Regions from separate parts of the Homo sapiens genome. Here region 2 is reported to be linked to region 1. The links are microRNA targets in miRTarBase. Many come from high-throughput screens and were not tested one by one. Region 1 holds a microRNA gene; the other region holds the end of a gene's coding sequence.
The links. The annotated mature microRNA hsa-miR-181b-2-3p reads CUCACUGAUCAAUGAAUGCA and lies in region 1 at 4,156-4,175, opposite strand. An mRNA with a match to its seed (bases 2 to 7 or 8) in the 3' UTR can be bound and repressed. Matches are read on the target gene's strand: a 7mer-m8 pairs with bases 2 to 8, a 7mer-A1 pairs with bases 2 to 7 and ends in A, and an 8mer does both.

Region 2: the mRNA of CILP2 is a reported target of hsa-miR-181b-2-3p. Seed matches in the 3' UTR shown: 7mer-A1 at 1,599-1,605.

The regions. Positions count from the first base shown.
Region 1 is chr9:124,690,675-124,697,937 of GRCh38, reverse strand. MIR181B2 (microRNA 181b-2) reads right to left here and starts at 4,228; the gene lies at 4,140-4,228. The region is part of intron 2 of NR6A1 (nuclear receptor subfamily 6 group A member 1); the gene reads left to right. The region is part of intron 1 of MIR181A2HG (MIR181A2 host gene); the gene reads right to left. MIR181A2 (microRNA 181a-2) reads right to left here and starts at 5,496; the gene lies at 5,387-5,496. RefSeq lists an enhancer at 2,371-2,916.
Region 2 is chr19:19,544,920-19,551,919 of GRCh38, forward strand. It overlaps CILP2 (cartilage intermediate layer protein 2), which reads left to right. Exons shown (of 8, transcript NM_153221.2): 8 at 1-1,740. The coding sequence ends at 1,097. Among named protein-coding and RNA genes, the nearest start is that of CILP2, 10 kb to the left of the region's middle. RefSeq lists an enhancer at 463-1,146.

The DNA of each region.
Region 1 (7,263 bases):
AAATTCTTTACATGTATTCTTAATCTTCAAGCAGCCCTGTGAAGCAAATACTATTGTTGTATCTCCTATTTACAGATGACACAGATTTAAAGGTTAAGTAATTTGCTCAAGTTCATATAGTTGCTAAGTAACAGCTGAGATTTTTACCCTCATTTAGCCCAAGCTCTTCATCACTACCTTTCCAGAAATCTATTTCCACAATGACTAGAACGCCAAAATTGTTCTTTCCAAAACTATTAGTAATCTGTTTTTTTTTTTTTTAAATCCTACCTTCTTTTCTGGCCTTGTCTCATGACTTTTTCACCATCTTTTTATGTGCTTTAGTCACAATTTCTGTTTTGTAAAAACACTGCTTCTTTGGCCTACACAACATACCATCCATTCTCTATGCTTGGAATGCTTACTCTATTTCACCAAGGTAGTTACACATACCCTTGAAGTCTTTACTTATACATCACTTCCTCAAGGAAGTTCCCTGACCCTTCTTACCACCAAGACTGGATTGGTCCCTCCTATTATTTGCTCTCATAGTACCTTACTTTTATCTTCTGCAGAGCTCTTCACACTTGCAATTAGCTATTTGTTCGTTAGAATTAGTTCTGCCTTTTACGTTATATACTTTTGTTTCTTCCATGTCTCCTGGCTCCTGTTGCAGTCCAGGTATACACTAGGTGTCCAATAAGTATTTGTTACCTTTTTCTTTCTGCACTTAGATCATTCTTTCTCAGATCCATGCTTATGAATCATAAATGTGCATTCCTTGTTCTGATATCTGTTCCAAAAGTGGAATCCTCTTTCTTCCATTGTGAAATTGCCCATTTCTTTCTTAGTACACTCCAGGCTCCTAATCTAGTCAGGAAAGTTTGGCATCATTCTTGACTCTTTGCTTTCTTTTCTGTTTGAGCCAGTTCTTTGGAAGGTGGTTCTGATATATCGATATGGAAAGATGGCCACAATATTTTAAGTGAAGAAAGATTTCAGGCCGGGTGCGGTGGCTCACGCCTATAATCCCAACACTTTGGGAGGCTGAGGCGGGTGGATCACTTGAGGTCAGGAGTTTGAGACCAGCCTGGGCCACATGGCAAAATCCTGTCTCTACTAAAAATACAAAAAATTATCCAGGCATGGTGGTACGTGCCTGTGGTCCCAGCTACTTGGGAGGCTGAGGTGGGCGGATCACTTGAGGTCAGGAATTCGAGACAGCTTGGCCAACATGTCAAAACCACATCTCTACTAGAAATACAAAAATTAGCCAGGCGTGGTGGTGAGTGCCTGTTGTTCCAGCTACTTTGGAGGCTGAGGTGAGAGGATCAGTTGAACCCAGGAGGCAGAGGTTGCAGTGAGCCGAGATCACACCACTGCACTCCAGCCTGGGTGACAGAGCGAGACTCCATCTCAAAAAAAAAAAAAAAAAAAAGCTAGAGAACATTATGTATAATTTGTGATGTTATTTTCTCTAAGTATAAATACATGCATTTTAAGTATCTTGAAATATCTGTGAGGCTATACACCGAACAGGATGATGGAAGGGGGTCAGCCAGTAGGCTTTTATTTTGAAAAACAAAAGCCAAAGTATGCCTTTTTGAGATAACCTTTCCTTTCATTCCATTCCTGTTGACTCAGTTCTACCCCTGCTAACTTGTGCAAGAAAGTTCTCTTTTTTCTCTTTTCTTCCCCTCACTTCATCTGCTTAGTGACTCTTCCCAGTCTTGCTTTCATTGTCTCCTTGCTGAGTTTAGCATTTAAAACGGCTCTCTGTTGGACTAATTGACTTTGCGCCTTGCTCACAAGTCCTTCTGTAATATGTCCTTTTACCTTTTCAGTGCCATTCCTTATGACTCCCTAATACAGTCTCTGGACTATTCTCTTCCTGTCCCCTATACATGCCATGTAATTTTTCTGTTACAGGTATTTATTTTGAGGCCTATCTGCAGAAAACACCCTTTAACTTACATAATTGTCTCCCTTCTTGTAGTACTTAGTTTTATCCAAGAGAAAACTTGGATTTGGTTTAATGAAATATATAATTGTTTCATTGGCATATTTAAAGACTATGTAATAGTCTGTAAATAAATAGCATGCTTGTTCAAGTGTACATTTTTCAAAGTACGTGTCAGACATTCTTTTCTAATGTTTTCAGAAATTTTGGAAATAATTGGTTAAAAATAAATGCCTAGAATGCACAGCATCTTGAAAAACAAGACTGCGTGGAGTACCTTCTGTGTGTCTACCAGTCTCACAAAAAACTCTTCTATAAAGACCCCCTCGGGCCGGGCGCGGTGACTCATGCCTATAATCCCAGCAATTTGGGCGGCCGAGGCGGGCGGATCACTTGAGGTCAGGAGTCTGAGACCAGCCTGGCCAACATGGCTCTACTAAAAACACATTTCTTCTAAAAACACAAAAATTGACTGGGTGTGGTGGCGGGCCAGCTACTTGAGAGGCTGAGGCACGAGAATCACTTGAACCCAGGAAGCAGAGGTTGCAGTGAGCCGAGATCGCATCACTGTACTCCAGCCTGGGAAACAGAGCAAGACTGTCTCAAAAAAACAAACAAACGAAAGAAAAACACACACAAAAAAACCTTTTGGTAATTTCTTTGGGTAGGTTTTAGTTTTTTAGATAGCGTAAATCCAAATCCATTCATTTCCATAAAACATCAGACACAATTTGATGTATATTTGGCCACCAAACATGGTGCAAAATTTTATGTAGTCTGGAGATACTTAAAAGCAGCACAAATGTGACTCTACCTGTCTGCACTCAGCAGAATAGTGGCGATTTCAGGTGGTGACACAAAAGGTTGGGCAATAGTTGAAAAGTGGATGACATGAAATGTGGTGGTGGGATGGGGGCAGGAAGCCGATGTTAAGCTAGTGAACTTTATTTACTTTGCTTCCAGCTTCCAGTGACCCAAAATCACCTCGTCTAGAGTAGGGCTCAGGAATTTGCCATTTTAAAAGCAACTCTAGATGATTCTGGTGTACAAGAAGTTTGGGAAACACTGGCTTGAACCTGATATTTTCTCTGAACTCTCATAGTTTTCTTTAGATTTTTCTTTTGGCTTTGATTTCTCTTTCTGGTTCTTGTCTCATTACCCCATCACTTCTCCTTCCTAATTTGACAGGAAAGCCTTGTCAAATTAAGGCTTGCTTAATTGTCAAGGCTAATTTGACAAGACTCTTCTCTTACTGTCTTATTTGACTTTTGCTATGAGAATCTGCTTCTTCTTAGACTTAAGTGTATGATAAATTATTCATGACCAAGGGCCTTGTTTTTCTTTCTTTAACATGGGATTTAGTGGCTTATCTCATGTTACAGGATTTAGAGAGTTGATACTACATTTAAATTTTTTGTTAAGAAAAATGTACATCTTCTATCTCACTTAGGTGTTTTTCCTGTTTGAGGGACATGGTTTGCAAAGGTTAGAATGAATGAGCCTCATAGTTTTTGTCAAAAGAGAATATTGATGTACATCTGAATAATAACCAGAACATTCATATTAAGTCATACTATATAGCCATTTAAAAGAATGACGAGTACATAAAAGACTGTTGTGGAAGTCTATGATATATAGCTGAATAACAAAATAGATTATAGAACAATAGGTAAAAATGAGCTTATTTTTGTCTAAGCCACTCTCCCCCCAAAACATGCAAAATTACAGCTATTTATCTGTGTATGTATGGATAAAGGTCTTCAAGGATATAAAATAAATTCTAGTTATGATATTTATTATCTTAATAAGTTTATTATAATTATACATGTTTTCCTCCGAGGAAATGGATTGCAGATGATGATTGAAGGGATTTTCAATTTTTACTTTGTATATTTTTGTATTTGAATTTCTAAATAATAAGCATATGATTCTGTTTAGAAATTCTGAATGTACTGATTTTTAAAATGTGATGTGATATCCAGATATGTATTTAATTCTTCCTATAAAATATCATTTCCTTAAATCTAGACTATTGAAAAAGGAGAAAAGTACTAGGAATTTAGAGAACTTACTCCATGTTAGAACCAAGGAGAACAAGAAAAGCTTTAGCTAGTGTTTTGGAAATAGTAGCAGCTCCCACTCACAGCAGTAGCTGCTGCACTCAGGCGACTCTCTGCACATGCTTTTGCTTCCTTTGGGTTGTTTGGTCCGCAGTTTGCATTCATTGATCAGTGAGTTGATTCAGACTCAAACCCACCGACAGCAATGAATGTTGAGTGCAGCCATCAGTGTTTTCAGTTGGTGGGGTTGCCTTTGCCCTCCCTGGCTGACTCCTGGCTCTTCTTTTCCATCTCAGTTCTTTGAAGTCTGTGTGTCTGGCTTCTCCCTTAGTAACCAGCCATCTGCATGATTGAGGGCCCACACAGGTGTCCATAACATTGACATTGGAGCTGGGAGGTTATTGCAGATGAGGAAGCTGTGGTTCAGAGAAGGAAGGAGTGCTTGGAGAACCTCACAGGTAGCACTGCGCCACACAGGCAGTGCTTGCATATTAGTACCTGTAAACCACAGCTGAGGGACCTGCTTTTCCTCTTTGTTTTGAACTGAGAAGTATGAGTGCTTTTTTGAGGTAAATTAGCAGATTATGTTGGAGTTTAATAATAACAGCTTACATATATTGAGCATTTGCTGTGGGCTAGTAATGGTACAAAGCACCTTATATATTATCTCATTGAGTCTCAAAACTCCATGATAGGTACTCTTAGCCTCTGTTTTATATGTGAGAAAACTGAGACACTTGCTTAGGGGGTCAAATAACTAGTTAAGGGCTTGAGCCAAGATTCATCCCAGATCTGACTGACTCCAGGGCTAAGTTTTTGCTTGAATTTAGCAAACATTTAAATAAGCATATGTGGGGATATGTGGGCACTAGTAAGGCAATAGCTCATGCTCTAACTGGGATATCAAAAATTAACCATATTAACTATAATTCAAAGTGAAATGTGATAAGAACTGTCACAATTGGATAATTTTGTGCTATTTTTGCTTATTAAATCCTCCCCTTGCCCCTAATTAAAAATTTTGAGAGGATGTGGGAGAAATGGGAGTAATTATTTAACTGGATTTTATTCCAAAACAAAATACGTATTTTTAATAAATTTTTACTTGCTACGTCCTGTTTCTCACCAGAATGGTGCATATCTAGGAGACATGTAGGTACATTAGATATCATCATGGACTGCTCCTTACCTTGTTGAAATGAAACACTTTTTTTGTAAAAACAAACAAATAATAATAAAACACACAACAGAAAGCAAGGAACAGTGAGCAGTAGGAATAAAATTCACTGGACCACATTTGGGGGATTGCAGGACCATTTCTGGTGAACTCATGTGACATGTGAAGGTACAGCTTGCTCTTTTGCTTCAGGAAATGTAGTGTCGTCTGTAAGGACCCCAAGGTACAGTCAACGGTCAGTGGTTTTTTCAAATCCCAAACTCACCGACAGCGTTGAATGTTCCTTGGAGTCCTCTGAAGGCTGGCCTGATAGCCCTTCTTCATTCTCCCATCCACATCCCAAGAACCAGTGAGCAGTGAGACCACCGCTGATGGATGCTCTTACATTCCTCTCTGGGTTTCAAGTCGAGAGTATTTAAATTATAAAATCAATTTGTGTGCAGCAGAGAACTAATGAACTGTGGGATAGACTGTGCAGTAATTTGTACAAGCAGACTCAAATGAATGTCTGAGAAAATGTCTTTGAATGGTATTATTTTGTGATTCTAAAAATGTAAAATACCTGATTTTGCAGTAGTATTTTAATTGTTAACAAGGGTAAGAGATTAACATATATTGGGGATCTGCTATATACTAGGATTTGTATATTTTATCTCATTAAATTCTCAACAACCCACATTTTCCTGATGAAAAAACTTGAAGTGATTTGCCTAAAGTTACATTGCCAGGAGCCAAGGTTATAAGCCAGAATTTGAATACTGGACTTCATGTTTCCAGTGCTCACTCATCATACTGCTTCTGTTGTCTACTACAGAACTTACTGTTGATATCTAGGAGTAGACCCATCACTGCAGAGCCAAAGTCAAACATGTAAATTTCTTCTACTTGTTTGCCTATAATAATAGCAGGTAGGTCTATAGGTGAGGTCATAGGGGAAGATGAAAAACCTCGACCTCCATGATTGATGATCTCCTTTGCTGAGATCCTGCATTACTAAGTTACCACAGAGGTGTTAGTGATAGTCCACAAGCTATTTTCCATATTGAAAAAGCAAAAAATAAACCAAAAACCCACCACCTAATGTAAAGCTTGCATTTCTTCTTAGTTGAGAACACAGAGTGTAACTAAAATGTCAGATGTCATTTGTTCTGGCTGAAACGATACCAGTACATTATAGGACATAGTGGTTATTTTTGATTCTGTTGAATGTCTGTGATGAAAAATTTGAAAAATGAATTAATAATATGAATCTTCAGAATATGTGATTTACAATGGGACAGATCTAGGAATACTTAATAGGAAAAGGGCTTACAGAACTGCCTGCTGAATTGAAGTTAATCTCTAAATGGGGATAGTTATTACTATTTGCTTTAGGTTTAAATACTAAAGGCTGACTGGTCTCAAATTCATTTTTAAAGCAGCCAAATGGTACACGTTAAAAGAAAAAATATCAACCACTGAGATTTAGGTTTGAATGTAAACTGTTTACCTTCTATATCAGTTTAATTCACCCTCTGTCAAAACTCTGCATTAGCCAGCTTTGTTGAGTTTTCAGTGTTATGACAGTAAATTGTATACACACACAAAAAATCAGGCAACTGTAACTGTGTAATATGTTTAAAACTTTTTAATGGGTTTATTTTAAAAAGTCTTCCTCTTGGTCCAATAATATAAAGCGATGTCAAGCCTTATACTATTTGGATAAATATTTAGACTTTAAAAAAAATACTGATTTTGACTTCACCAAACCTTTAGATGCTTACAAAATATTATTCCTTAAATTCATAGCATTCTAAAAAGAATGCTTTTCACAGACTTGAAAAACTACAGAAAGGTAGGTTTCTGGAATGACATGGGGTGTTGCCCACTGTATTTGAAATAATTGTGTATCATGGCATAATGGCCTTCATCATCCTCATTCCTTTAAGTTCTTTAGTTTTTATCATCAAGCAAGTTTGAGCACACATTTGGGTTTTTTAAGTGAGTTTGGCTAAGGGGTTTATATACTCGGTGCAAGGATAAAGTCTAAGGGTTAAAAAAAGTTAAGGGTTAAATTAGCTAAGAGTGACCAGGCAGGGTGGCACATG
Region 2 (7,000 bases), not on the chromosome of region 1:
GCCTCCCCGCCTTCTGCGACGCCGACAGGCCAGACGCCTACACCGCCCTGGTCACCGCCACCCTGGGCGGCGAGGAGCTGGAGCCGGCCCCTTCCTTGCCCCGCCCACTCCCGGCCACCGTGGGCGTCACCCAGCCCTACCTGGACAGGCTGGGGTACCGTCGGACGGACCACGACGATCCCGCCTTCAAGCGTAACGGCTTCCGCATCAACCTCGCCAAGCCCAGGCCAGGTGACCCCGCCGAGGCCAATGGGCCTGTGTACCCGTGGCGCAGCCTGCGGGAATGCCAGGGGGCCCCGGTGACTGCCAGCCACTTCCGCTTCGCCAGGGTGGAGGCGGACAAGTACGAGTACAACGTGGTCCCCTTCCGAGAGGGCACACCTGCCTCCTGGACTGGCGATCTCCTGGCCTGGTGGCCCAACCCGCAGGAGTTCCGGGCCTGCTTCCTCAAGGTGAAGATCCAGGGTCCCCAGGAGTATATGGTCCGCTCCCACAACGCAGGGGGCAGCCACCCACGCACCCGCGGCCAGCTCTACGGACTTCGGGATGCCCGGAGTGTGCGAGACCCCGAGCGTCCGGGCACCTCGGCAGCCTGCGTGGAGTTCAAGTGCAGCGGGATGCTGTTCGACCAGCGGCAGGTGGACAGGACGCTGGTGACCATTATGCCCCAGGGCAGCTGCCGGCGCGTGGCCGTCAACGGACTCCTTCGGGATTACCTGACCCGGCACCCCCCACCGGTGCCCGCGGAGGACCCAGCTGCCTTCTCCATGCTGGCCCCCCTAGACCCTCTGGGCCACAACTATGGCGTCTACACTGTCACTGACCAGAGCCCACGCTTGGCCAAGGAGATCGCCATTGGCCGCTGCTTTGATGGTTCCTCTGACGGCTTCTCCAGAGAGATGAAGGCTGATGCCGGCACAGCCGTCACCTTCCAGTGCCGGGAGCCACCGGCCGGACGACCCAGCCTCTTCCAGAGGCTGCTGGAGTCCCCGGCGACAGCACTTGGTGACATCCGCAGGGAGATGAGCGAGGCGGCGCAGGCACAGGCCCGGGCCTCAGGTCCCCTCCGCACCCGCCGGGGTAGGGTCCGGCAGTGACCTGGGCAGGGGCCTCGCTTTCCCACCTCCCTCCAGACTCCTTTGACCCCAGGAAGTTTTGCCCCTCCTTCTTCTCCAGACAGCCCCCTCCCCAGGTGTCTGGGTCCCCTTTCCCGCCCCTTTCCAGAACTCAGAGTCAGACAAGAACCCAGAGCATCCGATGGTAGAAACACCAGGAAGACAATTGTTGCTGTGTGGTATGGAATGGAGTTTGCGGTGACTCTGGGGCCAGCACCCAGGGGACGACGTTCAACCCTAGCCTGAAGGGACCCGCTCCCAGCTCAGAAGCCGTCTCTGACTTCTCGTGCGTATTTTGACCCTGATTTCAATCTTCTACCCTTGGGAGTTCTGGCGTTTGGCACAAAGTCCCCTCTGCCTGTTTGGAGCTCAGTGCTAGACCAGGTCCCCTGCCCCGAGCTTTGTTTTTGGGGTTATTTATTGAAACAAAGTGTGGGGAGCTGGTTGTGGGTGTGAGTGGGGGTGTGGGGTCCAGGCTGGGCCCAGTGAAAAGGAGGAAGGGGTTCCCATGCGGGGGAGGCTCTGGGGCTGAGGGGAACAATTCTCACGTGTTTGGTGCTTAGAGACCTGCCCGGGGCGTTGGGCAGGCCCTCCGGGGGCTGAATTAAAAATGCTTTATTTCCAACTCATGGTGTCAGGCTCTAGGGAGGAAGGATGGAGGCTGGGGCTGCCCGGCCCAGATACACCTTTCAGGCAGAAACACGCGGAGGCACACGCGGGTGCCGGGGGCAAGAAGCACGGGCGGCTGTGACCGCTGAACACAGTGGCAGCCTGCTGCTCTGGCCTGGACTCCTTGGCTGTGCCTGGCCGTATGCCCCGGGGCTACAGCAGGCAGGGAGGGGCCCTGGCAGGGGAGCCTCTGGGGCAGGCAACAGCAAGCCAGGCCACCCTGGACCTCCTCAGTCGAGTCCACAGCAGCCCCACCCTGGGCCCCACCCACCTGAACCCCGGCCACACCTCGGTCATGTGGCGACGGGGCTGCCCGAGGCCAGGGCTTTCTGACCTTGCCAGGACCCTGGGTCTGGAGGCGGCAGAATCACGGCTGGCTGGCAGTCTGTGTGCACGTGTGTCCTCCTGGCGCTCCACAGGGCCGGCGCTGTCCTGACCACACCCCCACTGTCCAGACAGAAAAACTGAAGTCCTGGGGTCTGGCATGAATCCCAGCAGGTTTGAGCCCCCTATAGCTCTAGGTGTGTGATTCCCCAGGGTCTGGGGATGAAGGCATCAATGTGGCAAGACTGGAGTGGCCTCCAGGGCACCTGGGATGGGAGACTTGTCCCTGGCTGACACCCCCTAGGGAGTGGGGGTATGGAGCGTCCCTTAGCTTAGGGGGCAACCACCCACTTCCTCTTCAATCTCCCACCCATTCACTGGCTCCCCTCTCCAGACCCCCGATCTCATCATTCACCCATCCAGCATTTAGAGGTGTGAGCTCTGCACTAGCAACTTCAGGGGACCTGAGAGAGCCTATCTCTCTAGGGGGAGACAGGCTCACACGTGCATACCCCAATATGCCCTGGGCCAGTGCTCCACCCAGAGGGTCCCTGGCTCTTGTCCACTGGCCACATCCCCCCTTCGGCTGAGGTCTTGGCAAATCCGAACCTCCGCAGCTCTCACCCTTTCAGTCAGGGAAACACTTCCTTTGCCCTAGGGTGGACTTGGGGGCCTGGAGGCATGGGAGAAGCCCAAGATGCGAGGCGTCACCCCTGGTCTCTGAAGGTGGGCCCTAAGGGCTCTGCTGGAGTTTGGGTTTGGGCAGCCCCAGACATTGGCACCCCAGCCTCACCCTCGATAGGCTGTGACAGGCAAGAGAGGCGAGAGGTCCCTGAGGGAGCTGGCAGGGCTTGGGAGAACACACATTTATCCAGAACTTACTGTCTCTATACCCCCAGCTGATAGGCTCAGAGGCACAGGCCCCTCCCAAGGCAACCTAGGTTCCCGGCCTGCCTGCCACAGAACCCTGCTCAGGGCTGCCTGGTGGGGGTCCTGGGGAGGGGTGGGAATGGGGGCGCTCCCACTTGAAGCGGGCAAAGCTGGCTGCAGCTTTCCAGGCGGAGGGTGATGAGGTGTCAGGCTCCACGGCCAAATACCTTTCATTGAGAAAGTGTTGGGGCCTCCGACGCTGCCAGGCTAGGGCGGCCAGCCAGGCATGGAGCGGGCAGCTGGCCCAGCCCTGTCCCCTTCCCTAGGGTGGGGCAGGGGTGGACGGGCATCCTCCAGAAGCCCCCTCCCCAGTCACCACGCCTGGGCCAGGAAGGGCATCTCAGGAGGAGGACATGGCTGAAGCAAAAGCTGGGCAGGGCACGGGGCTAGAGTCCAGCTCCTCCCCATCCCTGCTGATAACTCTGCAAGAGGGCAGCGTTTGGCCACAATTTCCAGATGAGGAAACTGAGGCTCCAAGAGAAGGACGCCATCAACCTGAGTCAACAGCCTTGTGCCTCTTGACACTGCCTGTCTCCCCCAACTGCAGCCCTCAAGCCAGGAATCCCACCCCCTCCCTCCTGGAACCTGGGCTACCGTCCGCCTCCTGGTAAATCCATTGTCTACCCCCCAACCAAATTGGGGCTGCCAGACCACACCCCCTCAGTCTGGGAGGAGTGAGGGGCAGGGGACCCCCTCGAAGAGACCCCCAGCTGCAGCCACCCTGGGTCAGCTCAGGGCACAAACAGGCCCTTGGTCCCGCCCACGGCATTTTAGACTTTTATAATTTTAGAACCAGGGGTTCTTAAAATTCCTAGCACCATGATGGGGAAAAAATCTTGGAACAGTAAAATGTTTAAAACAAGAGTCTTCAAACCACAGAATCCAAGAGGAGGGAGATAAAAATGAACACACATTGAGCGTTGACTGACTGTAAGCCCTCCGAGCCAGCCCCCGCAAAGCCTAACTCACTTTAAGGGCATTTAGTATAAATCTGTTGCCTTGGGATCCCCAAAATATGCTTTTAGGGAGGATGATTTTTACCCCCATTCCACAGCTGGAGGAATCTTCTCAGGGTCACACAGCAAATGGGGTACTGTGGGCTGGGGAAGGGCAATGTTTCCTGGAGAAGGGGACATAAGCACTGGGTCTTGAAGGATGTGTAGGAGTTTGCTGGGTGGCCAAGGCAGGAAGGGCATACCAGGGAGCTGGAAAGGTGAACGTGAAAGCTGGAGGAGGGAGACCCACGGAGGGCGGCAGTAGAAGGGAGACACAAAGTGGAGGTGAGCAGGGGCTCGAATGCTGAGTGAGGAGCCTGAGTTCTCTGGTGAGCAATAGGGAGCTATGGGTTGTGCTGAAGCAGGAGAAGGTTACACAATATCTCGTGACAAAGACTCCCCTGGAGCTGGTGCAGGACTCAGCTTCTTACAACATGCTTCTTTCACGGAACTGGGGTCTGCTCCCTCCTACTTGGGGGCCCTTCCAGGGTCCAAACCCTGCAGCCCAGCGCCCTCTCCCCGCCAGCTGCCTCCTGTCCTGGCTGAACATCCCTGGCTCCTCCATTGGGGCCTCGTGGACCTGGCGTGGCCACCCACCACTTCCCTAGCCCCGTCTGTCTCTCTCATCAGCCCTCAGAGTTGGGTCTGACCCAGCCTCAGACCCCAAAGACTGGAGCCAGCCTGGCGGGGAGACCTGGCTTTGGTCAGGTGGGGGAAGTGCTTGTGCTTTAATGGTGGAAACAAAGGCAGGATGCCACAGGGTGAGAGCAGACCAGGAGAATGCCATGTCCCGATGCCTCAGCCCTCCCAGGGCAGGAGCTAAGTCTAGACCCCTGGGCCGAGGGTGGAGGGGGTCTGGGCAGGCAGGAGGGAGGAGACCCCGGCCATCGGGGAATCAGCAGACCCTGAGGTTTGGAGGTGGATGCAGGGAAACAAACACTACCCTAGGCAGGGCGAGTGTGTCACACAGAGCCAGACACGCCTGTCATCGATCTCGAGGTCACGCTGCCCTCGTCACGCCCCATCCCTGTCCCCTGTAGTCAGGGGCATGACTCCCTCCTTCCCATACTTCCTAGCCAACTTCTCGTCACCTGATTGGTGACACTGTCACCCTCAGGACAGCCACATAGGCAGTTGCACTCGAAAAGAGCATGAGCCCAGACACACCAGACCCATGGGACACGCTGGACACTGTCCCCCCTCATCACAGCAGCACGGGTAGACAGATGCACCCTCAACACAGAGAAAGGCCCACGCTTAGGGTCAGGTAGCGGTGCCTGCAGCTGCGTGCACCTGTGCATACCTGTGCACACCTGTGCGCACCTGTGCCCAGCTCCCCTTTGACTCACCCATCATCACCCCACACATCGGGACACACTTGACCCCCAGACTCCCAGCTGGCCAGTCTCAACCCCCCACGACCCTCCACAACTCAGCCCCACCAGGCACATGAAGCCATGCCGAGCACAGGCAGCACCTCCCACTCTCTCGGGGCCCTGGGGAGCGGGTCGGCCCTGGGGCTGGGGACTGGCGGGAGGCCTCAAGGTCCCAGCCACTTTTCCAGGGAAGTCCTGAATCCCTTCCTGCTGACTCAGCCCTGGGGGCTGGCTAGGCTGGGGGCTGCCAAACCTCAGGTATGTCCTTGAAGGCTGCCTGGCGGGGCCTCTGAGGTGGGGGCGGGGGCTCCCACTCGGGACTCAGTCCTTCCCTGGGCCCCAGCCTCCCTCCTTGCCCCAGATGGAGCTGCAGCTTTAACCGTGGCGTTCAGGGCATGGGGCCAGCACGATGGAGCCTGAGGCCGGCTGCTCCCACCCCAGTTCCTCCCGGCTGAGGGTTGGTGGAAGAATAAGCTCCCAGCCCAGCCAGAGTATCCCAGCCTGACTGTGGCCTCATAAAGACAGCACTGTCTGGTGGGAGGTGGCCTGGCTGCCCATCCTGGGGCCCAGCACAGGGACCCATGCACACACAGTGGGCACACACGTACCCATGTGATGGCTACATGCAGACCTGTGGATACAGATGTGCATCATCAGACACAAACTCAGCACCAGGACTGGCCCCCACAGAACCCCAGTCAGGAGGGGGAGGCAGCACTGGCCACAGATACTCCAGTCTGCAGGGCCAAGGTTGGCCAGCCCAAAGGCCAGGGGCTGGGAAAACCCAGAGGAGGGCCCAGGGAAGGCTTTCTGGAAGAGAGGGCATTTTGACTTGGGCTTTGAAGGGTGAGTAGGAGTTTACCAAACCAAGCTCAGATGTCCAAAAGTCTTAATGCTGGTTTTGAGGTTTACCTTTTGTCTGTGAGGATGTTGGGCAGGGGAGGGAGACAGACAAACCCCAATTCACTACCTCCTTTTGAGGACCCAGCCTCTGCCCTCAGGGAGCTTCCAGTCAGATAGGGGAGGCAGCACTGACTCAGCCAGGAGGGATAGAAGATACTTCAGCTGTGTGAAGCACCTGTCGTGTGTTGGGTTGGATCCTGTCAAAAACCCATAGGGAAAATTCTATTATGATCCCCATTTTACAGCTGAGAAAACTGAGGCTGAGAGCGGGACATACCTTGCTCAGGGCCCACAGGGAAGCAGAGCTGTTCACACACAGCCCTGGTTGCTGACGTGCAATTGTGGCTGCTGACCTGGTCCCAAACCAACTCAAAAGTTTGCGGGCCAGAATGGTGCAGCTCAAAGAAGTCTGCGTTGGCAAAAGTTGCATCTTTGCACCTGGAATCCTGGCCAGGCCGGGAGGCCCCTCCTCCCGGGACATACAAGATCCCCCTGGGACTTCTCAGCGAGATCATCCCCTGTCCTTTGTTATCTGGCTGCTGAGTGGCTTTCACGGGGCAGGGGCTTCTAGGCAGAGGGATGTTGGAGTGAGGGCCTGGGGGTGCTTCGCCAGGACTTCTGGGAGGCCTGGGTCCCCAGCCTCGGCCCCGCTTGCCATCTGGCCCAGCTGAACACAAACACTTGGACA